7 linked regions of the Homo sapiens genome follow. The protein of the gene in region 3 purifies or fractionates together with the protein of the main gene of each other region. This does not show direct contact. Each region holds a gene or a part of one and is shown on either strand. Other genes may lie near its edges.

Region 1 (3,500 bases), on a different chromosome or scaffold from region 3:
ATTGAGTTCCCATCCCAGTGCTGTTCTTGGTAACTTTGGCTGCCAGACCATGGGCCACAGCACCTGAGACAGTCACACAGGCCCTTTTGCCTCTGCAGCTCTCTGTCTGAACAGTCATAGTCCCAGACACCTCCTCACTCCATCCTCACCTGTAACCTCACCTTAGCGCCTGTCTGCCGCTGCAAAGATCTGTGTGGCAGCAAAGATGTGGGAGGTGGAAGTAGGGAGTGAAGCTGTCTGCAGGCGCAGAAGGGTTTCTTTAGAGGCTGGGCTGCCTCCTGCTGGTGCTTGGTGCACCTGCCATTGGTGCCCAGGCCTCACTAGGCTGGGCCCTGACCAGAGCTCTCGAGCCCCAGCTGCTCCTCTCCAGTTTCTGTAGCGTGGTTTGGGTTGGTCCAATGAGGTGATATGACATATTCAAGGTCACACAGCAAGGAAGGGGCAGAGCTGGACCAGAGCCTGGAATCTCTGCCCGCTCCTTGTCTTCTGACTGGGCTGTGCTGCTTGGGCCCAGGGTTGTCCCAGGTCCTGCTTCGAGGAGGCGGCCAGGTCCTGCTCGGCTGGACACTCCATTACTTCCCGTTTTTCCTGATGGGCCGGGTCCTCTACTTCCACCACTACTTCCCAGCCATGCTCTTCTCAAGCATGTTGACAGGTCAGTGCCACCCACCTGGACTTGGGAGACAGAGCAGGTGGAGGGCGGGCCACTGTTGGGCAGCAGTGCTGGGAGTGACTCTGCTCCTTGACGGGAGGCCACTGTGGGGCAGCAGTGCTGGGAGTGACTCTCTGCTCCTTGACTTGGAGTGCCTCCTTCTTCTGTAGCCCAGAAGTCACCCCCTGCCTGGCTGACTCCAGGTTTCTCTCCTCTCCTCTAGGCATTCTGTGGGACACCCTCCTGCGGCTCTGTGCCTGGGGCTTGGCCTCATGGCCCCTGGCGAGGGGCATACATGTGGCGGGAATCCTGAGCCTGCTCCTGGGAACTGCCTACAGGTGAGCATCTCTGCACCTCACATGCCCTCCCAGTGTGGGCTCAGCAGTGCCTCAGCCCTGATGCATTCGAGAATCCCCTGCGGTGCTTTTAACACCACCAGTGCCCATGCCTGGAGGTTCTGCGTCACCCAAGCCCAGGTGGGGCCGTGGTTTCCAGAGTCCCCCAGGTGATCCTAATGTGCAGCCAGGTAGGAGAAGCAGGGCTTAACTCTGCCTTTTCCCCTTCTGCCGGTGGTTCAGCTTTTGTGCCATCCCAGCGCACCTGGAAGGGTACCCCTCTAGTGACAGTGACTCTGTGCCAGAACAGCTCTCAGAGGGGGAGTGTGGGAATGGGGGGCAGGGAACCCCTCTTTAGTCACCATGGCCCCCTGTCAGAACAGCTCTCCGGGTGAGGGAGGGGGGAACCGGGGGGCAATGGGGGACAGGGCACCCCTCTTTAGTCACTGTGGCCCCCTGCCGGAAGAGCTCTCGACGGGTGGGGTGGGAAGGGTGGGAATGGGAAGTGTGTGGCTGAGTGGCTGAAAGGGAGAGTTGTTTGGAAGGCTCCCCGCTTCCCCAGTCCCTGGCCTTGGTGCTGGGCCTGTGGCCTGTGAGCACATGCCTGCCTAAGAGGGTTACATTCACATGTTGACAAACACCCCTGGCCAAATAGCCCATGACAAGACCCCTAGAAGGGTTGCCCTCCTGGGCCTCTTGGGAAGAGCCCTTTCCATGATTGTCATTGAGTCAGCATCTACTAAGCTCTCCAGCTACAGTGTGCCCCAGTGGGACTCAGACAGACAAGGCCGTGAAAGAGAACCGGGCTTGGCGATGGGGAATTTCTCTGGAGCTCCAGCAGGAGGAATGGAATTCAAAGCCCCTCAGCTGAGGCACTGGGGGTGCCAACTGCCTCCTACTGGTTCTCTCTCACAGCTTCTACCTCTTCCACCCTCTGGCTTACGGGATGGTTGGTCCCCTGGCCCAGGACCCCCAAAGTCCAATGGCAGGACTAAGGTGGCTGGACTCATGGGACTTTTGAGGCCACTGCAAAGATTCCAGCCTGGGTCCAGGAACTTCCCAGGAGAGCCAGCTGGGAAGCAGTACTGGACCATCCGGCCATGAGGAAGCTGCCTAAGGAGCCCGAAGAATTCTGCTGCTCACCAGGACCCAGCTCTGGGAGTGCAGCTGGAATGGAACCCAGCATTGGAGAGAGCCGGGAGAGAGCCGCAGCTCCGTCCACAGCACCACGGAGAGGACAGCGCCTCTTGGGCTGCTCCCTCGTGCACAGCGCAGGGGAGGATGGGTGCCAGAGGGTGGGAGTGGGTGCGCGTGTGTGTATGTGAGGGCATGTTGTCCATATCCCTGTGGAATACAGACCGTGTAACTGGACAGCTGAGTGTCATAAACTCTAAAATAGTCCAGGCTATAGTAATATTTTCTGGTATTTTTTTCTGTTGGATTTCTTTGGTTTTGGTTTGTAAGATCCATCAAAAATTCTCAGACCTCTGAGAGGGCCTTGAGGGCAGAGAATACTGACCTCACCTTGGGATGTCACCAAAGGCAGAGCAGATGGGACTGTCAAAGTTGTGCTGCCCTCCCTCCCACAAACAAATGAATCCAGCGTGGAGGAAGGCGCGCCGCCCCGAGCTGGAGGGCCTGGCTCCCACCATGCCCCCCAGTGGCTGCAGGTAGCTGGACTTCCTGCCTGTGACGCACAGAGAGCAGCGGACTCCGGAGCGTCAGCCTGCCTTAGCCCTTGGTTCCTCGTTTTTTGGGATTGTCACACTGTGACACTCGGGAGGAACGATGTCCTATCCTGGGCTGCTCAGTGTTCCCAGGCCCTGTGTGCCAGAGGCCAGGTCTCTCCAAGTGCATCTAGCCTGGCCTGGAGGGCAAGGCAGATGCATTCTCCTGGCTGCTGGGAGAGCCCATGGGAACCTTGCTTAGCGCCCAAGGTAGATGAGAGACAGGGCAGGGAATCTGCGTGGTGCTGGGATGTGGGGACTCTGGCCTCTCCAGACTAATGTTCCTGTCACCTGCTGAGCTTTCCCAGTGTCACTTCTGCAGTCCTCCTCTGCTCACCCCTCCCTCACTCCGTGGGCAATTCCCTTTCTCTCTGTCACTGCTTCAGCAGTGAAGACCCATGGCACCTAGAAATGCATGCCAGCTTCCTGCGTCTACCACTCTGCAGCTCAAACAAGAAGCTCAGAGCTGCCCCTTCCACTTCCTCCCCAAAAGGGATGAAGAAAACCCTGTGGTAGAACCAAACCACCCAAGGCCAGCCCTTAAGCCTGCCTCCACCTTCCTGGTGCATGACAAAATATTTCTTTTGTCTCAGAGGACTTTGATGCTTCAATATTTAATGATGAATCCGCCACACTCCATTTTCCCTCCTCTGAAGCTCCCAACAACTCTGACAGGGTCAGATCTCTTTAAAGCATCTTCAGGAGGCGGTTGCCACGGAGACTGGATATTGGTCCCAGGGACAGGCTGTGCTACCTACTGGGTGGTGGGGAGGGAAGCTTCTGGCC
Region 2 (3,500 bases), on a different chromosome or scaffold from region 3:
TATCTCCAGCCAGCCTCCCCTTCTGAGTTCCAGATCAGTATTTCCATCAGCCACCAAATTTCTCCAGCTAGACAGTCTGTAAGTAAGCCAGATTCAACATTTCCAAAACTGAATTTAATACGTGTCCTCCAGAATTTTCTCCTCTATTGGCTACCATTGTTTAATGGCAGTATTATTATCACACAAACATGAAAGCCAGGAATTTGTCCCCATGTTTTCAACCTCACAGCCACTCTCCAAATTCTCTTGGCTCTCCTCCCATCCATGCAACTCCTGCCACCCAGTCAGTCCCTCATCTTATGTCTGTATGTAACTTTTAAACTGGATTTTCTTTTCTTATCTCTCCAACCCATTCTCTTCATTTTCACTAATGATATCTTTCTAAGACACTTATATGTTTCCAATTACTGCTTTGTTTCAAATGTTAGTGGCTCCCCATCTCAGGTAGGGTAAAGTGCCAATTTCTTGGCATGTCATAAAAAGGTACATTCTACCTATCCAATCTTTTCTTTACTGTATGCTTTCCTGAACACAAATACACATTCACACACACACACCACACACATGCCCACACATGTACACACTCTAAAGCCATCTATATACACCATTCTTTGTTATGACTACACCTGATCATACCATATTTAGTGTGAAAATATTTTCCAAATACTCCCTTTGCCTTCATTGCATTGTTGCTTTCACCCCTTTTCACTCATCTCTTTGCAACTGACCATTATCCAATGCTAGAAGGGTCAATCCCAAGCAAAATTATAAAGTAGAGAACTTTTACTTTTGCAACAAAAAGGAAAGCTTGAGGTAACCTACCTTTGCTGGGTCCCACCCTAAACCACCTCTCTGGTCTCATCCTCAGCCCCTTAATGGGACTTAGGCCGCCCTCTGATAAAGTAACTTTGCTCCCCTATGGCTTAGCAGTTATACCTGCCCAACCTCAGCTAAGCTTTGCTCTCTTAATACTAGGTCCTGAGCCACTGTTTGACTTAAATTTATGGACTGGGGTTTAGGATTCAGTATTTACAATGGCTCATATATTTCTGATGTATGGTCTGGTTTGGAAGTGATTGCTTAAATATCATCACTGCCTCCCCACTTTCCTAAGATTAAAATTCCAGTGTTACCTACCCCTTACCACCTTGTGGGATGATCACCAAGACAGGTAGATTTCAACATCAAGAGTTAGTGGCTGTGAGCGGCTGTGTCAGTTAAATTCCTTCCGAAGTGGATGATGACTACTCCCTGTCTTCATGTGCTGACAGCCCTGGAGATATTAAAAGGTAGAAGCTTGTTAATGTAAAGAGATGAGCTTCTCATGATGTAATTTTAGACATTCAGCAAAATAAAGACACATGTTCAGTCAATGTGTATAAAGTCAAGAATTTCAGGAAGAATGGGGAAAATATTTGGGGCCAAAAGTGTCCAGGCATCACATAAATTCTACCACTAAAGCCATAAGTCTTGACTACCAACACTGCTCAGCTTGGGATATTAGTAAAAGATTTAGCACAGCATAAAACAAGAGAAACCATGAAAGATCACCGCTCTGATTGGCAAGTGAAAGAAATGGAAGGTTGGTGGAGTTCTTTTTTTCCAGTTGTTCAGTGACCAATCATTTACCAGCAGAACATACAGAAGAGTGGCTCCCTACAGGGGAGAATCCTAGCACTGCAAATCATGAGACAATAGACTCTGTGTATGACAGTGATTCCTATGCCCCTTCAGGTGATCCATAGAGGCTTTATTGATCTGGCTACAGTGAATTTCATAAAACTAATACTTGATAATATTCTTATAAGGTATCTACTTTATGTAAGGCTGTGTGTTAGGCTCAAGGTGGAATCAGAGAAAACTTAAAACATGGCTGAGAGAGGTTGGAGTTTATTTGGAAAAAAATCCAAACATGGGGAAAGGAAATTGTCTCAGCCCTGAAGCATACTTAACCAATTTCAGCCCCTTGTCATCTTCCTTTCTAGCAGAAGTCCATTTATTGAGTTACCATCCTCTTCTGCATAGCTAAAAAATTGAGGTGATGCTGAAGGGTGATTAGGCTGGTCCCAGGCATCTGGGCTGTGTCTGATTTAGCCATGGGCATGTAATGCAAGGTTGACCAATGAGATCTGCTGGGTGACTTATGGGAAAAGAATTTTCATTCCTAAGAGAGATATTTGTTAAAGAAAATATTGTCAAGTTTATATGTGAAATTTGGAACAACTACAGCCATCTTGCAACTGCGATGTCAACTAGCTTAAGGATAAAGCTAGTATATTGGAGTTAGCCTTATGGAAAGAAATGGACTTTGATGTTGTCTTTGAACTTCTGAATTATTGGAATTTAAGACTATAGTATGTCTTGGTGTCTTTAAAATTTTCATATAATTTAAAACTTGGTTATATCATTTTCTATAACTTAGAGAGCTGTAACATCAGTTTCCATAGCATAATAGATGTCATGTGTTCACAATTAATGAGTGGTACAGATAACATGTTGAATTCAGAGGATGGAGAGATATCATTGTGATACATTGAAGTGTCTAGCCTCCTGAGATGTCTTCATGGAAACAGGTAAGAATCATTACAATTTAGATCTGCCATGAAGAACCTCAGAGATCCTGGAGTACAGTTTCTACCTTTTAAAATGGATGTAAGTGATACTAGAAAAGCAAGCAACATAACTAGCAATAGGACTCGTCTCCTAGTTCCTGGGGCAGATGTTTAGGTTCTTGAATAGAATACTGACGCAATGAAAACAGAAGGTCCTTATGCCCACAATGTGGTATTCAAGTTGTTCCCAGAGAGTGAAAGCTGAGTTGCAGCCACCAGACCTTGAAGGGCCTTGTAAGTCATGATATAGAGCAGGGGTTTTATCCTGAGAACAGTAGAAAGGTCTTGAAGGGCCTTGAGCAGGGGAGTGACATGATCAGATGAGGAGAGTGGGTTGGATGGAGGCCAGGTGGAAAGCACCAAGATCATTTAAGAAAGAATATGTTTGGGTTTTAGTTTTAGTTTAGGAGACCAGTTGTGAGATGATGGTGGTAAAAACTCAGATAGTGGCAGTAGGGAAAGAGACTGGAGGATTTATTGGAAAGGCATTAAAGAAGAAGAGTGAACAGGATTTGATGATTGATTTACTATGGAGGTGGAGAGAGAGGGAGAAGATAAGGCTGATGCTTAGGTTTCTGACATGGACAAGTCAGTTGATTTTGTGCCATTCACTGAGATAAGCAGTGCTGAAGGAGAGCAAGTTGGAGGAAAAAGATGATCAGTTCAGGTCAACAGATTGAGTTTGAGACATCTGGATGTACACCTGGATGTATATGTCTAATTAGCAAATAGTTATATGTAGTGGCGTTAGGAACAGGCAGGAAAGTAAGATGGGGATAGAGATTTAGGAGTCATTGGCACCTAGAGAATAACTGAAGATAGGACATTAACAAGATGAGTCAGGCAAAGGGACTAGAAGAGGGCTTTGGCCATGGCTCAAGGAACTGC
Region 3 (2,404 bases):
GGTTGGACGAAAGCCTGAGGGGCCGACTCACTGTGGCGGCCACCTTGTTTTGCAGAGGGGGACCTACCTGCCGCAGACGTACATCATCCAGGAGGAGATGGTGGTCACGGAGCATGTCAGTGACAAGGAGGCCCTGGGGTCCTTCATCTACCACCTGTGCAACGGGAAAGACACCTACCGGCTCCGGCGCCGGGCAACGCGGAGGCGTGAGTGGCTGGCTTCACCCACAGTAGCCCCTGTCCCGTGCCCCAGACCACAGTTATCTTCACGCCTAGCCCAGCTGTCAGAGAGCTCAGATAGCAGCAGCAATAACAGCTAGCATTAGCAGAGCACTTCCGTGTGCCGGGCAATGCTGTGTGCTCTTTATGACCTCTTAAGAGTGTAAGTCATTCTCATCCTCATTATTATTTTTGCTGCCCATTTTAAAGATGAGGAAACAGGTGCAGAGAGGTTAACACCCTGGAGGTCACACAGCAGGGAGGTGGCAGACATGGGCAGGCTGACTCCAGCTTTCGAGCTCTCCCCATTTCTCACTGTGCTCTTTGGGTGAATCTGGGTGAATGGTGTCACTTCCTGGCCCTCCTGTGGCTCAGGCTGAGGCTGGTGGTCTTTGTGACTCAGCCAGGATGCAGGGCTCACTGGGGTTTTTCTTTTTCCTCCCAGGGATCAACAAGCGTGGGGCCAAGAACTGCAATGCCATCCGCCACTTCGAGAACACCTTCGTGGTGGAGACGCTCATCTGCGGGGTGGTGTGAGGCCCTCCTCCCCCAGAACCCCCTGCCGTGTTCCTCTTTTCTTCTTTCCGGCTGCTCTCTGGCCCTCCTCCTTCCCCCTGCTTAGCTTGTACTTTGGACGCGTTTCTATAGAGGTGACATGTCTCTCCATTCCTCTCCAACCCTGCCCACCTCCCTGTACCAGAGCTGTGATCTCTCGGTGGGGGGCCCATCTCTGCTGACCTGGGTGTGGCGGAGGGAGAGGCGATGCTGCAAAGTGTTTTCTGTGTCCCACTGTCTTGAAGCTGGGCCTGCCAAAGCCTGGGCCCACAGCTGCACCGGCAGCCCAAGGGGAAGGACCGGTTGGGGGAGCCGGGCATGTGAGGCCCTGGGCAAGGGGATGGGGCTGTGGGGGCGGGGCGGCATGGGCTTCAGAAGTATCTGCACAATTAGAAAAGTCCTCAGAAGCTTTTTCTTGGAGGGTACACTTTCTTCACTGTCCCTATTCCTAGACCTGGGGCTTGAGCTGAGGATGGGACGATGTGCCCAGGGAGGGACCCACCAGAGCACAAGAGAAGGTGGCTACCTGGGGGTGTCCCAGGGACTCTGTCAGTGCCTTCAGCCCACCAGCAGGAGCTTGGAGTTTGGGGAGTGGGGATGAGTCCGTCAAGCACAACTGTTCTCTGAGTGGAACCAAAGAAGCAAGGAGCTAGGACCCCCAGTCCTGCCCCCCAGGAGCACAAGCAGGGTCCCCTCAGTCAAGGCAGTGGGATGGGCGGCTGAGGAACGGGGCAGGCAAGGTCACTGCTCAGTCACGTCCACGGGGGACGAGCCGTGGGTTCTGCTGAGTAGGTGGAGCTCATTGCTTTCTCCAAGCTTGGAACTGTTTTGAAAGATAACACAGAGGGAAAGGGAGAGCCACCTGGTACTTGTCCACCCTGCCTCCTCTGTTCTGAAATTCCATCCCCCTCAGCTTAGGGGAATGCACCTTTTTCCCTTTCCTTCTCACTTTTGCATGTTTTTACTGATCATTCGATATGCTAACCGTTCTCAGCCCTGAGCCTTGGAGAGGAGGGCTGTAACGCCTTCAGTCAGTCTCTGGGGATGAAACTCTTAAATGCTTTGTATATTTTCTCAATTAGATCTCTTTTCAGAAGTGTCTATAGAACAATAAAAATCTTTTACTTCTGACCTTGACTTGAGTGTGGCTGGAGGGGAGATGGGTGTAGGAGGGGTGCTCCGGGCAGGGTCGAGGAGCTGGACCTCGGGAGCAGCAGGCAGGGAGAAGCCTGCAGACCTTGACATCTGGCCCCTAAAGAGCTGGGCATCCTGGATTCAGCCAAGGAGTGTAGGATATCCCCTTCGTAGCACCCTGGATCTGAGCCAGGTAGAGTTCACACTTTCCGGGTGAGGAGGGGAACAGGGCTGGGAGAGCTTACCGACTCGCCCAAGGTCGTGCTGCTTTAAGTGCCTGTAAACCACCCTGTAATGTTCTACCTGGCAGATGACATCATTATTGCATGTCCTTAAGCACAAGGGCGGTGTCCTATTCTCCACCACGTCTGGACAATTTGTAACCATTCCTGGAGGATCTGAAGTGAGGTTTGGTGTGATAATCACAGGGTCACATTCTCCAGAGAATTCTGGAAGCGGCAGGAGAGCTGGCCAGAGCCATGTCTAGGTGGACCCCA
Region 4 (3,500 bases), on a different chromosome or scaffold from region 3:
AGAAATGGGTCTGCACGGATGCTGGACTCAGGTTTTGGGCTGAGGAGAACACAGCCAGAAAGAAGGCTGCTCCCACCCCCGCCGGCTTGCTGGTCACCTTGGGACAGGCTGGCCTTCTCTGGGCCTGAGCCTGACCTCAGAGCTGATGCCAAGGGATCAGTTCTCTGACATCCTCTGGTGGAGGGCAACCACAGAGGGCAGCTGCTCATCAGGCACTGTCTCCACAGGGACCACGGCAAAGTCGGGCAGTGCCCCCATCCTCAAGTGCCCCACACAGTTCCCGCTCATCCTCTGGCATCCTTATGCGCGTCACTACTACTTCTGCATGATGACAGAAGCCGAGCAGGACAAGTGGCAGGCTGTGCTGCAGGACTGCATCCGGCACTGCAACAATGGTGAGTGGCCTGTGGGTGCAGGGTCGGTGGGAGGGAGGGGCAGGACCTGGGTTATTGCTGAATGGTGACACCTAGTGGCTGACTATGGTGTGGCAACCCTGCTCTACAGGCTGTTCTAATTTCCCTTCTGGGGTTATAAGAAACCATGTAATACCACCCTTAGTCTTCTTTCTTGATGAAAACAGTTTTGTGCTGCTCAGGAAAAAAGTAGGAAATTATTCACAGAGGGGTGTGGTTGTTGAGCCCTTGGACCCTGAGTCACAAAGTCACAATCCTGATTCTGCCATTTTCCAGCTACGTGACCTTAGGGAACTGACTTACCTCTTGGAGGCTCTGTAAAGTGGGGATAATGCCTTGTGTGTCTTAGGGGGGTTATGAGGATTTAGAGTCTACCTCATGCTTGGTAAAGATTTTTTTTTTAATTTTATATATATATATATATATATATATATATATATATATATATATATATATATATATATATATTTTTTTTTTTTTTTTTTTTTTTTAAAACCACCAACCTGCAGGGTGATTTGGAAACTTCACTGCCTCCCTCAGGGCCTCATTGCTCTCATCTGTAAACTTATGGGGTGACTCTTCCAGCTCACTCATTTATTCAACAAACATTTTTAGTGTCTACTCTGAGGAGGCCCAGATTTAGGCACTGGGTGTGCAACAAGGGAGCAAGAAACATTCCCTGCCCTCCTACAATTGGCAGTCTGGTAGGGGAGACAGATGATAGACAGATGAGGATGCCAGCACGATGGCTCACAGCTGTGCTGGGTGCTGGGTGGAGCCAACCTGGGAGCCTGAGGGTGTGTGTGTGTTGGGGGAGGGGTCGATCAGGGCAGGCTCCCTTGAGGAGGTTATGGTTCAGCTTCAGCAGAGACCTGAAGGAGAAGTCCCAGACCTGAAGGAGGAGATGCCAGAAGTCCCAGGGCCCCTCATATCCTGCATAGAGGAGAGGGGAGGAGTGTTCCAGGCAGAGGTAGGCAGTCAGCATGAAGGGAGACCCACAGGTGGTAGGGGTAGGCCCGGAGGAGGAACTGCACGAGGCCCTGAAGCAGGGAGGGGGTGACCTGAAATGGGGCTGGAGGGGGGCCTCTGGGGTCAGGTCTGGAAAAGCCTTGAAGGCCTCTAAGGAATTTGAACAGAAAGGCTGAGGATGGTCTTCCAAGGTGAGGGTGGGTCCCTGGGGGTCTTTCTGCCCCTAGGGAAGGAACAACCCAGTCCTGGACACTGAACTGCTTCCAGGTGATCTGGCCTGAGGGAAGCTCCTGCCCCCGCCCCACCCTTGGGCGCAGTGCCACATGGTGCAGAGGTGGAAGGTTGCAGGGGACGGAGTGGGCGCCAATGGCCTCTGGGCTGCTGCCGTGGGACTCAGCTCACCCCACCCCTCCTGCTCGCCTCTCCAGAGCCACCTCTGCCCTGTCTGGAATCTGCCAAGCAGGAGGAACCAGGTCTTCAATCAGGCCAGCCCCTGCCACCTGGGCCCAGCTGCCCACAAAGGGCCTCCTGTTCCCAGGTCCCGGGGACTGTGGGCTGGGACTGGGTGGAGGCACTCAAGGCTCTGGCTGCCTGGCCCAGGGCCCTCCCGCCTCCCCAGCCCCTGGCCTGGTGCCATCTCTCCAGGTTTCCAAGGCTAACGGCTGACCTGGCCTGGCAGGGTGGGTGACCTGCGCCAGATAGGGAAGGGGTGGGCACAGAACAAGGTGGGGAAGGGCCACCTCAGTCCCCCATGTGTGCAGTGGGGATGATGATAAACTTGAGCTTGAGAGATGATTGGGAAGAGCTGGTCTGGGTGGGGCACTTGGCCGTGGGCCTGGCACGCACAGTGAGCACTCAGTGGGGAGGCCATGGGGGAGTTCTTGGTTCTAAGGTGCAGTGGACCAGAGGGAGGCCCAGGAGAGCTGCTGGGCCAGGGAATGAAGGGGTGTCCTGTGCCAGGAAGGTGTCCTGCCGGGTGGCCCCTTCTCCCCAGGGCGGGAGCTGACGAGGCTGGTTTCAGGCCTTCCTTCCACCCTGCGGACTGTGAGAAAGTTCTCTGCTTCCTCCGTCTTGGAGGCTGGGCTTGGAATTTGTGAAGCCTGGAATTGCTCACTCCGGGGGCTGCCAGGAAGTGGGGGGTGGGGGGAAGGAGGCCAACTGGGCGGACACCAGCGGTCCCAGGGACCCCTTCACATCCTGCATTCCTGGAGCAGCTGGGGGTGGCAGGAGGCAGCTGGGGCACTGGCTGTGCCGGGTCCTCAGTGTTGGCCTGGGGTGCAGAGGTCAAGGCTTCTTCCTGTCTGACCGTGGTCCCCCTCTGTCTGCTGCCTGGGAGTGAGGAATGCAGTTTCCTTTCTTGGAAGGTCTCCAGGTCTGGCTAGAGTCAGCTGGTCCTGGGTTCAAGCCCCGCTCTGCCATCCACTAGCTGAGTAGCCTCGAGCAGTAACTGCCTCTCTGAGCCTCAGTTCTTTCCCTGGGAAAAGTAGGGCACAGTGAGCTGAGGATTCAACGAGCTGATGTGTGTGCAGCCTCAGCCAGGGCTGGGGCCTCAGTTTCCCAAGACTGCCATAACAAATACCACAGACCGGGCAGCTACACAGCAGAAATATGTTCTCTCCCAGCTGGAGGTCTGAGTCGAGGGCAAGGTGTCAGCAGGGCTGGTTTCTCCGAGACCTCTCTCCTTGGCTGGTGGCCGGCCGCCTTCTCCCTGAGTCCTCACAGGGTCATGCCTCTGTGTGCCTGTGTTTTCTCTTCTTTCAAGAAGAAATGTACTTTTCTTTTTTTCTTTTTCTTTTTTCTTCTTTTTTGAGACAGAGGCTTGCTCTGTCACCCAGGCTGGAGTGCAGTGGCGCAATCTCGGCTCACTGCAACCTCCGCCTCCCAGGTTCAAGTGATTCTCCTGCCTCAGCCTCCCGAGTAGCTGGGACTACAGGCGTGTGCCACCACACCTGGCTAATTTTTTGTAGCCAGAATGGTCTTGATCTCCTGATCTCGTGATTCTGCCGCCTCGGCCTCCCAAAGTGCTGGGATTACAGGCGTGAGTCACTGTGCCCGGCCAAAATGTACTATTCTTTTAAGGGCACTAGTTGTATTGGATTTGGTCCCATCCTCATCCCC
Region 5 (3,500 bases), on a different chromosome or scaffold from region 3:
CTGGATGGCCGGCCAGATGAACTCCTCCACAAACTCCCTGCTGACATCCTCAATGAACACCTACGGGAAGAGGAGCCCAGAAGGAAGAAGTAGGCAAGGACAGGGGCCATCTGGCATACAGAGCCCCAGGGGCCTCAGCTAGCTGAGACCTATACGGGGCCACCCCCGCTGTACCTGGTGCTTCTTCTTCTGCATCTGTAGTAGACATCATTCATCAATCCCAGCACACTGCACTGTTACTCTCCCTCCTGCACTCATGGCAGACATTGCTAATCAATAGCTCTCTTTTTTTTTTTTTTTTTGAGTCGAAGTCTTGCTCTGTTGCCCAGGTTGGAGTGCAGTGGCTCAGTCTCAACTCACTGCAACCTCCGTCTCCCAGGTTCAAGCAACTCCCCTGCCTCAGCCTCTTGAGTAGCTGGGATTACAGGCGCATGCCACCATGGCTTGCTAATTTTTGTATTTTTGGTAGAGACGGGGTTTCACCATGTTGGCCAGGTTGGTCTTGAACCCCTGACCTCAGGTGATCCAGCTGCCTCGGCCTCCCAAAGTGCTGGGATTACAGGCACAAGCCACCGCGGCCAGCCTGCTAATCAATCCTGATGCACCGTTCTGTGAAACTGGATGTGGCTTCTAAATCAGCCCCAACAAGATGAAACTTAGTTGTCACCTAAGATCTCACAGCAGTAGTTCCCAACCAGAGACGGTTTTGTCCCTGTTGGGGGTGGGAGTAGGGGAGGCATTTGGAAGTATCTGGAGATATTTTTGGTTGCCACAACTACCAGGTGGGGGGTGGAATTCTGGCATCTAGTGGGTAAAGGCTATGGGGATACTGCTAAAATCCTCCCGTGCACAGGACGGCCAGCCACACGGGAACAAGGCCAAGACTGAGAAACCCCGATCCAGAGGAATGGTTCTTGAAATGTAGACCCCCAGGGGTTCCCAATGACTTTTCAGGGAGACACTGAGTGAAAACTTTTTTTTTGTTTTTTTGAGACAGGGTCTTTCTCTGTCATCCAGACTGGAGTGCAGTGGTGTGATCCTAGCTCACTGCAGCCTCAACCTCCTGGGTTCAAGCAATCCTCCCACCTCAGCCTCTTGAGTAGCTGGGACTACGGGCATGTGCTACCACGCCCGGCTAAGTTTTTTATTTTTTGTAGAGATGGGATCTCACTGTGTTGCCCAGTTTTCTTCATAAACTTCAATAAAACAAGGCATCACATAGCGAGGAAGCCCTGGGAGGCTAAAAAAGAAAAACAAACAAACAAACGAAAAAACAAGTGAATGCAGAAAACCGCTACAAGAGTCCATCTGTTTTCTGTCAAGCCAGACATTACAGAGATTTGCAAAAATGGAAGCCAATAAGATTCTTAACTAAAATTTTTTGTTTGAGAAAATAGTTATTTTTCATAAGTGTAATGTTACTTATGTTAACATGAACTGTTCATTTAAAACATTTCAGCTTTTATTTCTAATGTGATAAATATCAACAGATGTAATCCACAAAAGCTCTCTAAGGCCTTCAGTAATTTTTATTTTTTTGAGATGGACTCTCTGTCATCCAGACTGGAGTGCAGAGGTGCAATCTTGGCTCACTGTAACCTCTGCCTTCCGGGTTCAAGTGATTCTCCTGCCTCAGCCTCCCGAGTGGCTGGGACTACAGGCATGTGGGGTTTCTCTACTAAAGAAACTAGGCTGGTTGGCCAGGCTGGTCTCAAACTCCTGACCTCAAGAGATCTGCCCACTTCAGCCTCCCAAAGTGCTAGGATTACAAGCGTGAGCCACCGCACCCAGCCAAGGCCTTCAATAATTTTTAAGAGTCGAGAAATTCTTGGTACTGCTTTTGCAACTTCCTGTGTCTATAATTATTTTGAAAAAAATCCTTTTAAAAAATGAAATAAAAAGGCATAGAAAAGAAAGCAATTGGGACTAAGGATATATAAAAAACATTAGGATAAATGTGTTTTTGTGTTTGTTTGGTTGGTTGGTTGGTTTTTTTTACAGAGTTTTGCTGTTGTTGCCCAGGATGGAGTGCAATGGTGTGATTTCAGCTTACTGCAACCTCCGCCTCCTGGGTTCAAGCGACTCTCCTGCCTCAGCCTCCCGAGCATCTGGGATTACAGGCACCCACCATCGCGCCCAGCTAATTTTTGTATTTTTAGTAGAGACAGGGTTTCACCATGTTGGCCAGGCTGGTCTTGAACTCCTGACCTCAGGTGATCTGCCTGCCTCAGCCTGCCAAAGTGCTGGGATTACAGGCGTGAGCCACTGTGCCTGGCCCATCCTAATGTTATATGCAAGAAAATAAACATTAAAAACGCCACGTAAATTAGAGTGTAGAGGATTCCCAAGACCACAAGTTTTGAGAACTGCTCATCTAGAATAAAGGACAAAAGCTGAAGCCGTGCACAAAGCCTGCTCCTGCGCTGCTGAAAGCGCACTCGAATCTTCAACACTCAGGGCTCTTTCTCCCCTTCCTGGACTACTGCTCAGACAACCCCTCTGCTCTCCAGCACTCGGGAGGCACAGAACCAAGGAGGGACATTCTAGTTCCAGGCCTGTGGCCAGTAGGTGACTTGGGACTGGGGCATCCACTCCCTCCCGTGTTCATTTTAACATGCTAATTACCCTGGCAACCCTGCAGAAGCACCCCACAGAGGGGATCAGCTCTGACCCTGCAGGTGGGCTGGTGGCCTTGCACATCATCCCTGCTATGTCCCCTGCTCACTCTCCCAAATGAAGGGGCACAAGTGGCAAGGGCTTCTCCATGGGGAGTGAGCACATGTGAGCAGGGGTCCTGATGACACTGTTCATCATAAATGCCCTGTATGGGACAGGGGTCTGCCTGCCACATGCCTAGATTCACAATCAAGGCACCAGACTCAATTGGAGTTCTCTGATTCTGTTGAATGAATGGAAGAATGGGTAGACAGAGAGATAAAAGAGGGAAGGACAGGTAGGGGGATGATGGACAGAAGGATGGATGATGGATGACAGATGGATGGATGGATGAATGGATGGATAGAAAAACGGTGAATGGATGAAGGATGGATGGATGGATGGGGGATGGATAGATGAATGGCTGGCTGTCTGGATGAATGGATGGATAGACAGTGGAGGGATTAATGACAGATGGATATGTGGATGGATGGATGGATAATGAAGGGATGGATGGGTGAATGGATAATGGGATGGATGGATAGATGATGGATGGATGAATGGATGGATGAATAGACGGATGGATGATGGATGGATGCATGGGTAGATGATGGATGGATGAATGGATGATGCATGGAAGGATGAAGAATGATGGATGGATGGATGGATGATGGATGAATAAATGGATGATGGATGGATAGACGGATGATGGCTGGATGAATGGATGATGGGTGAATGGATGGATGGATGGATGATGGATGAATGGATGGATGATGGATGGATGGATGATGGGTGAATGGATGGATGGATGATGGATGAATGGACGGAGGATGGATGGATAGATG
Region 6 (2,279 bases), 6.9 Mb from region 3:
TCAGTTGGGACTTGAGTTTTTTTTTTTTTTCATGTGTCTTGCTGAAGATTAAGGGGAAATGTTACAGTGTTGGGACTTCCTTTCATGGCAGAATCTACAATTTGAGCGACTTCAGTAGTATCTCTTAGTCTACGCTTTTCATACACAAAACACTGTGGAACCACAAGCCATTACCAAGCAAAACTCTTTCACTGGAAACAAGGGGGCAGTCTAGAAGTAAAAGTGACCTTAAGAAGACTCTTTACAGGCAACAAATGAAGCTTTTCTAAGGGATTTTTGCATCAGTTCAGTCATAAGAATACTTTTTTCCAGGGTAATTAGGCAATAGCTTCACTGAAAATGACAGCTTTTCATTGCATTATTTAATCCTTATATTTGGAATTGAAGTCGTTAACTTCTTTTAAAGAATGTACTATTAGAAAAATTAAAAATGAAATGTTGAGAGACTTCAGCAATGTGGTTCTAATTTTTTTCCACTGAGAAAGAAGATCTTTAATTTCATATTAATGGTTCTGTATATTTTGGGTCATCTTTTTATTTTTTAAGAATATCAAGTCAATTCATTTTTCTTTCCCTATTTAAAAAAAAAGGTGTTTTCACAGAATGAGTGCACTTAAAAAGTGAAGTGAAGGAGGAGGTAACAGTAGAGACGATGGCAATATCATCAAGGACAAAAGTAAAAACGTTTAGCTACCTGCTGATTTTTAGTGACTGTTCATATATGTTGTATTTCAAGTATGGCTGGTGAAGCCAGTCAGCTTTTCGGGACGTTAGCAAGTGGAAACTGAGTCAGTATCATCCAAAACCATATCTAGTCTTAACACATGGAGAATGCTGGAGTGAGGGTTGTGAGTTCAGGGTATATAATCAAGAAAACACTCCCAGCATAATGCTAGGGGTCACCAGTGTCCATCCCCCAGAACTGTATGGATCTAGGATATACACAGCTGCGTTGCATTAAGAAAGAGATGAAATCTCTATTAAAATACACAAGATTTTTGTATCTCCTTGTGCAGAGGATATTTGCCACTGCCCATTGGGAAGCAGACAAGTTATAGGGGGCTGGGGGCCAACACTGGCAAGTAGGAAACCACGGGTCGGACAGGTGAGCAAAATGTGCTGGCAGGTGGGCACCACTGGGAGACCCACACTGCACACCCGGGCACCGTATGAACAGGAAAGAGGAAGGAAGCTGGACGAAGCCCCTCAGGGACCCTGTGCTGACCATGCTGGGCCCACCGGCAAAAGGGAGATATTCAGTTCCTTGTCTCATCCTTAAGGTTTCTTCCACAACATCTGAATACAAGCATGTTTAACTGGGAAAATGTCTATGTCATGCGTGAATAACACCAGCAGCAAACACTCACACATCACGCAGACACGGCCGGCAGCATGCTGACGCTTTTAGGTATTTTTCACTCATGCAATTTTCACATATTTTCACTCATTTCATTTGCACGGAAATTCTATGAGGTAGATGCTGTTATCAAATCCACATTACAGATGAGGGACCCAGGGTCCAGGAAGGTGAACTGGCAGAAGTCTCCCAGCTGGTAGAACAGGGCTGCAAGGCATCGATTCCCAGGTGTCTCACAGCCCTGAGAAGATGGCGTTTTCCCTATCAGTGGCTCTGAGGAAGTCAAGCCTTCAGTCTCTACCTCTCCCACCAATTCTTTTGGAAACAGCAAACCAATGTTACACACACTTCCTAATCCAGAGGAAGCTAGAACACGATTTTTAAATTTATTTAGTAAAATAAAACTTTTTTTGCAGATGTAACGAATGGAAATTGGTTGCTGGCTTCTTTCATCCCTGCAACCTAGCGTTTCTCAGCCTCAGCACGACGGTCGTCTGGAGCTGGGTCGTTCTTGGTGGCTGGGGTGGCTGTCCCCTGCACCGTGGGATGTTGAGCAGCAACACTGAACTCTACCAACTCATTGCCAGTAGACCCCACTCCCGGTCATGACACACAAAAACATCACCAGACATTGCCAAATGTCCACTGCGGGGGTGAGGGGCGTGTAAAAGCGCCTCCCATTGAGAACCACTGCTGTAACCTGAATTAGAAGATTTGGAAAAGAAATGGTTGAAAACCCAGACCAGGATCCCTGTTGTATGTTTCCTATGAATGATTTTCATTTTTAGAAATGAAATAACATCTAGGACATAGAGCAAAACACTCAAAACACATCATAAATGGATAACATAAATAGATAAAAATCCAATGCAGTTCAGAATTACAATCAAATGTTATTTTCTCTTGTGTTTTAGAATTCCTC
Region 7 (4,108 bases), on a different chromosome or scaffold from region 3:
GTGCTTGGGCATTGACCAGCCAAAGCTCACATTTAGAAAGCCCTCAGTGCTTCTGTGGTTTCACCTGGGCATCGACGACATTAGGGAAGCCTTTGTGACCACAAGGGCAGGGCTTGTGCCCTGAGTGGCGAGGTGGTGACCTGAGGCCAGTGTGATGTGGTTGGATCTCAGCGTGTACTGAATGCCAGTCTGGCCGGCACACTCGAACGCTAAGAGAATGGTCCAATTTGATGATCTTATTTCTATTTCGATCAGGTTTTGACTTTTTGTAGATGAAAACTACCAGGGAAAAGGGGAAGCAGGTACCCAATAAAGTTTAGAAAGATCCAGTCTGTGAAACCCTTAGAGATGGGCTGAAAGTTAAGTCCACCAACCCTTGGGCTTAATCAGGACGGAAGAGGAGGGGGTGTGGGGGGCAGAGCGTAAAACAAGCCCCAGCCCTACTCCCGGCCCCCCAGCCCAGTCTTCCCAATCCCAGAGGCCCCGGCGGCCTGTGCTCCTCACCACCCTGGTCAGGGGAATAGAAGGAAATGCAATTTCCGCCTGTCTGCCCGACTTCCAAAAACTGCCTCCTCCTGCCCAGGCCTCTCCCACCACCACCTTCCCTCCAAAGATAACCGTGTCCATGCCATCCGTGGCATCATCTCGAGTTTTCATTTTTGGATGAAGTGACATTTAGCTTTAACAAGACATTTCCAAAGCGCCTAGTCTCCTCCAAAATGCTAACTTTAAAAGTTGGGCATTGTAGGCGAAAAATCCCAAAAAAAAAAAAAGACAAAAAAAAAAGGCTGGCGAGAGAAAGACATTTGGCTATGCATAAATGTGCACTTCCCCCATGCCCCCGTTCTTAAACTCTTAAGATGCCTTTGAGTTGCTTTTCATGAATCCTTTTAGTTTACCCGATAATGTTAAGAAAGCATTAGTCTACGTTACTGTAATTTCTGTAGTGTTTACGCTTTAATTTCTACCACAAAATATGCTATATGCTATGTATCAAGCTTTCTGTAATCAGAAAGAAAAGGTGCCTTATATCCCAATGTCACGGCTACATCCCTATGGAAATTAATCAGAAGCACAGTGTGTACGGAAGCATTGGGACTTCTGCTGGTGAAACAAGAGACCATTCAGCAAGACACATTGAAGTGGCACGGAGCTGCTTTTGTTTTATAATTCTTTTTTCCCCCCTTTTCCTTCTTCTTTTTTATTATTTTATTATTTTTTTTGTACTTTGCTTTAAACGGAAAGCACTTAAATAGATGACTATGTGTAAAAGCTCTGTGCAATTGAAATCATTTTTCTTCATTTTAAAAAAATAACGTATTGCACACCAAATGAACTCAAAGTAAGCTTTAGACCAGGACGATTCAGGTTATGAATGAGTTTGTTCACTGTAGTTCCGTTTGTTCATGAACCGAAGGGAAAACAGGCCTCCCCGACTCCCTCCAGTCTCCCAGCCTGCCTCTTGGTGACCACTGTGCTGGGCGTGCAGGGCCCGCGGGCTCTGGCCGGAGCCGCTGGCCTGACGAGGCAGGATAGGGAGTATCCGTGATTCAGAAGCTGAGACCCTTCCCCAGTGTCTGAGGCCACAGCCATCCCTTCCAGCACTTAATCTTGTCTTGTTGAAATGGACTGACTGCTACTGACCTGCCGGCGTGCGTGAGGGTGATTATAAAAGGATGTTTCCTTGAGAAAAAAAAAATTATTTCTATCCTCTTCTATTTATTATTAGGTTAATCATTTAAGTACTTATCAGGAGTGTATTGTTATTTTGTGTTTTGTTGTCATAAATGCTTTTTGCTGTCACTCTAGTGGTTACTATCCTCTGCCTTCCTCTCCTCCCCTACTCCCCCAGAGAACCAAGGCGTCTGGGGGATTGACTGGGGGGCAGAGGGGGTTTCCCCAGCAAAATCAAACACCTGTCTCCAGAGTAGCCACTCAAAAACTGGTGGTCTCTATGTGTCTAACTTTTTAAATGAGAGTGTTTATGAACAAAAAAATTTACCAACGTGTGAGGGAGTTGCTGAGTTGAAGAATGCTCGCTTGAGGAGCTTCAGAGGAATCTTAGCAAAGCCAAGTTCAGTTCCCCAAAGCCTCCTAGAGCCTCTGGTAAGACTTCTGGGTTCATGAAGTTTCGGCGAGCCGTGGTCAGAGAGGGCGCGGTGGCCTGGCCAAGACTTTACCTCCAAGCGAGAGAGTGATTTCTTGCAAGGCCCGCATGGGTTGATACGTTTTGGTTGGTTTTTTGTTGTTGTTTTTCTTGCGTACAAAGTTGGTCAAAACCATCTTTCAAAGCAACAGTGTTTTGTAGTACCAGGCTGTGGCTTGAGGGCTCACCTAGGAGATCATAGGCAGAGGGCCCCTTTCCCCTATAGGTGGTTCAACGTGGAGGAAGGTTGGGTGTGGAGATTGCTTGCTGTGGCCCCAAGCTCAGCCAGCAGGACACCCAGTTGTTGCCAATCAGGTGTGAAGGTGAGGCGCCCTGCCTTGATCCCATGGGCCCAGCAGAAGGAAACTTACCCCAGGCCAAGGCAAGGGCCCTGCTCACCCCAAGGTAGGCTGGGAAGAGCATCTCTTTCCATATCATCACCTCCCCTTCTCCAAGATTGCCGGGGGCCCTGATTTTGTTCTCTCTTTGAAAGAAACCCTCCACCGAAACAATGGTCCCCATCTCCCCAGAAGCCTTTTTTTTTTTCATTTTTCTCTAATTAGTCTATGCATTTCTCTCTCTCAAACCATCTTCTGCCTCTTCCCTTGAGAAAACGGGCATCTCACGTACCCCCATCTGAGACCTCTTGGAAAAAAAAAATCCCGTGTATTCTGGAGATGTGAGAATTCACCCAAAATTCTTAAAACATTGGAGAATAGCTTGTTATAAAATAAAAGTGGGGGTAAAAAGAAGGTGGTTTTCCCCACATCCCTTTGCATTGAATAAGAGACCTAGTTCTTTGCGTTTGTGCAATAACTCTTTGCTGCTTGCCTTGAGAGCGGGTAGCACCACGCTCCTGTCCAGACTACTAACAGCACAAGACGCACTCACAGGGTGGCGGAATCTTCCGGAAAACTCTCTATAAGCTCAGCTCCCCCCACCCCACCCCCACTCTAGCGTTTTGTCACGTCTTACATTTTAGCAGTATTTTATATTTTCTGTAACGCACCAAGTCTTAGATCTTTCTAGAGCTTGTTTGTTCATCCTCACAATCACAGATTTTTTTCTCCAATCCTCACAGAGACCCAATTGACCAAAAAAGAAAAAAGGAAAAAAAAAAAGTCGTCTTTTTTTTTTTTTTTTGTACAAATCGCTTTGAGATGCCTCTGGTGTGTTGCTGTGTGACATCTCTCTGGTAACATTTTATTTCTTGCTATTTGTTTTTCTACATTAAGAGTCAAAGTTGACCTGGCTGGCGTGGGGGTGGGGGAGGCACCCGTCGGCCCCTTGGTGTTGTCCCTCTGTCTTTGGTTAGCCATACGATGTTTGTTCTCAGCACTGTACAACGGTCCCTATATAATACGGAGAAGCAATATCACTGTATGAGACTCACACCATGTATTATTATTCACTAGCACCCTAGGTGTGATAATTGAAGTAAATATCTTTTATACAAACACAAGAATGTGTGGGTTGTTTTTATTTAAAGTGCTCTGGCCTGAGGACGAGCAGCAAACACTGTCATTCGAGGTCCAAAGGGCACCTCAAGAATCGCCGTTCCCGAGGTCGTCCCCTTTGCACCTGTCCGCAGGTCCTCGGGCGTGTGGCTTCCGGGCACACAGAAAACCGTGTGGTTCTAGGATACATGGGGATCTCGGGCACTGCTCTGTCAATCTGCATCTGGTTCACAGGAAGGGCTTCGCCAGGGCCTGCGTTCCTACTTGCTGTTGTCACCAGCACTGTTTGCCTACCCTTGAACCAAGCCCTTACCCTCCCTGGCGTCCGCTTCCTTTTCTGTAAAATGGAGACACCATCTCCTGTCATATAGGCTTGCTGTGGGGAACCAGGAATGGTGGCCAGTGCTGGTGCGGCACTGGGCTGGTGGTGGCAGCCCCAATCGATGGCACTTGGGCGACCAGGACTACGGCCAGTCTCCTCTGCCGTGTGGCCTGCAGCTGGTCA

Evidence for each region.
Region 1: the proteins of ITM2C (region 3) and POMT2 purify together in Homo sapiens (co-immunoprecipitation; one large-scale study listed by IntAct). This does not show direct contact.
Region 2: the proteins of ITM2C (region 3) and ITGA2 purify together in Homo sapiens (co-immunoprecipitation; one large-scale study listed by IntAct). This does not show direct contact.
Region 4: the proteins of ITM2C (region 3) and NIBAN2 purify together in Homo sapiens (co-immunoprecipitation; one large-scale study listed by IntAct). This does not show direct contact.
Region 5: the proteins of ITM2C (region 3) and ASS1 purify together in Homo sapiens (co-immunoprecipitation; one large-scale study listed by IntAct). This does not show direct contact.
Region 6: the proteins of ITM2C (region 3) and LRRFIP1 purify together in Homo sapiens (co-immunoprecipitation; one large-scale study listed by IntAct). This does not show direct contact.
Region 7: the proteins of ITM2C (region 3) and CUX1 purify together in Homo sapiens (affinity purification with mass spectrometry; one large-scale study listed by BioGRID and IntAct). This does not show direct contact.

What each region holds. Positions count from the first base shown.
Region 1 is NC_000014.9:77,275,884-77,279,383, reverse strand, and holds part of POMT2 (protein O-mannosyl-transferase 2), read left to right. Parts: intron 1-514; coding exon 515-655; intron 656-875; coding exon 876-990; intron 991-1,902; coding exon 1,903-2,008; 3' UTR 2,009-3,500. UniProt on the Homo sapiens protein: Transfers mannosyl residues to the hydroxyl group of serine or threonine residues. Coexpression of both POMT1 and POMT2 is necessary for enzyme activity, expression of either POMT1 or POMT2 alone is insufficient.
Region 2 is NC_000005.10:52,992,352-52,995,851, forward strand, and holds part of ITGA2 (integrin alpha-2 precursor), read left to right. Parts: intron 1-3,500. UniProt on the Homo sapiens protein: Integrin alpha-2/beta-1 is a receptor for laminin, collagen, collagen C-propeptides, fibronectin and E-cadherin. It recognizes the proline-hydroxylated sequence G-F-P-G-E-R in collagen.
Region 3 is NC_000002.12:230,877,345-230,879,748, forward strand, and holds the end of ITM2C (integral membrane protein 2C), read left to right. Parts: intron 1-55; coding exon 56-206; intron 207-663; coding exon 664-755; 3' UTR 756-1,904; downstream 1,905-2,404. UniProt on the Homo sapiens protein: Negative regulator of amyloid-beta peptide production. May inhibit the processing of APP by blocking its access to alpha- and beta-secretase.
Region 4 is NC_000009.12:127,520,574-127,524,073, reverse strand, and holds part of NIBAN2 (protein Niban 2), read left to right. Parts: intron 1-227; coding exon 228-395; intron 396-3,500. UniProt on the Homo sapiens protein: May play a role in apoptosis suppression. May promote melanoma cell invasion in vitro.
Region 5 is NC_000009.12:130,454,961-130,458,460, reverse strand, and holds part of ASS1 (argininosuccinate synthase), read right to left. Parts: intron 61-3,500; coding exon 1-60. UniProt on the Homo sapiens protein: One of the enzymes of the urea cycle, the metabolic pathway transforming neurotoxic amonia produced by protein catabolism into inocuous urea in the liver of ureotelic animals.
Region 6 is NC_000002.12:237,779,865-237,782,143, forward strand, and holds the end of LRRFIP1 (leucine-rich repeat flightless-interacting protein 1), read left to right. Parts: 3' UTR 1-1,779; downstream 1,780-2,279.
Region 7 is NC_000007.14:102,254,626-102,258,733, forward strand, and holds the end of CUX1 (Homeobox protein cut-like 1), read left to right. Parts: 3' UTR 1-3,608; downstream 3,609-4,108. UniProt on the Homo sapiens protein: May be involved in intra-Golgi retrograde transport.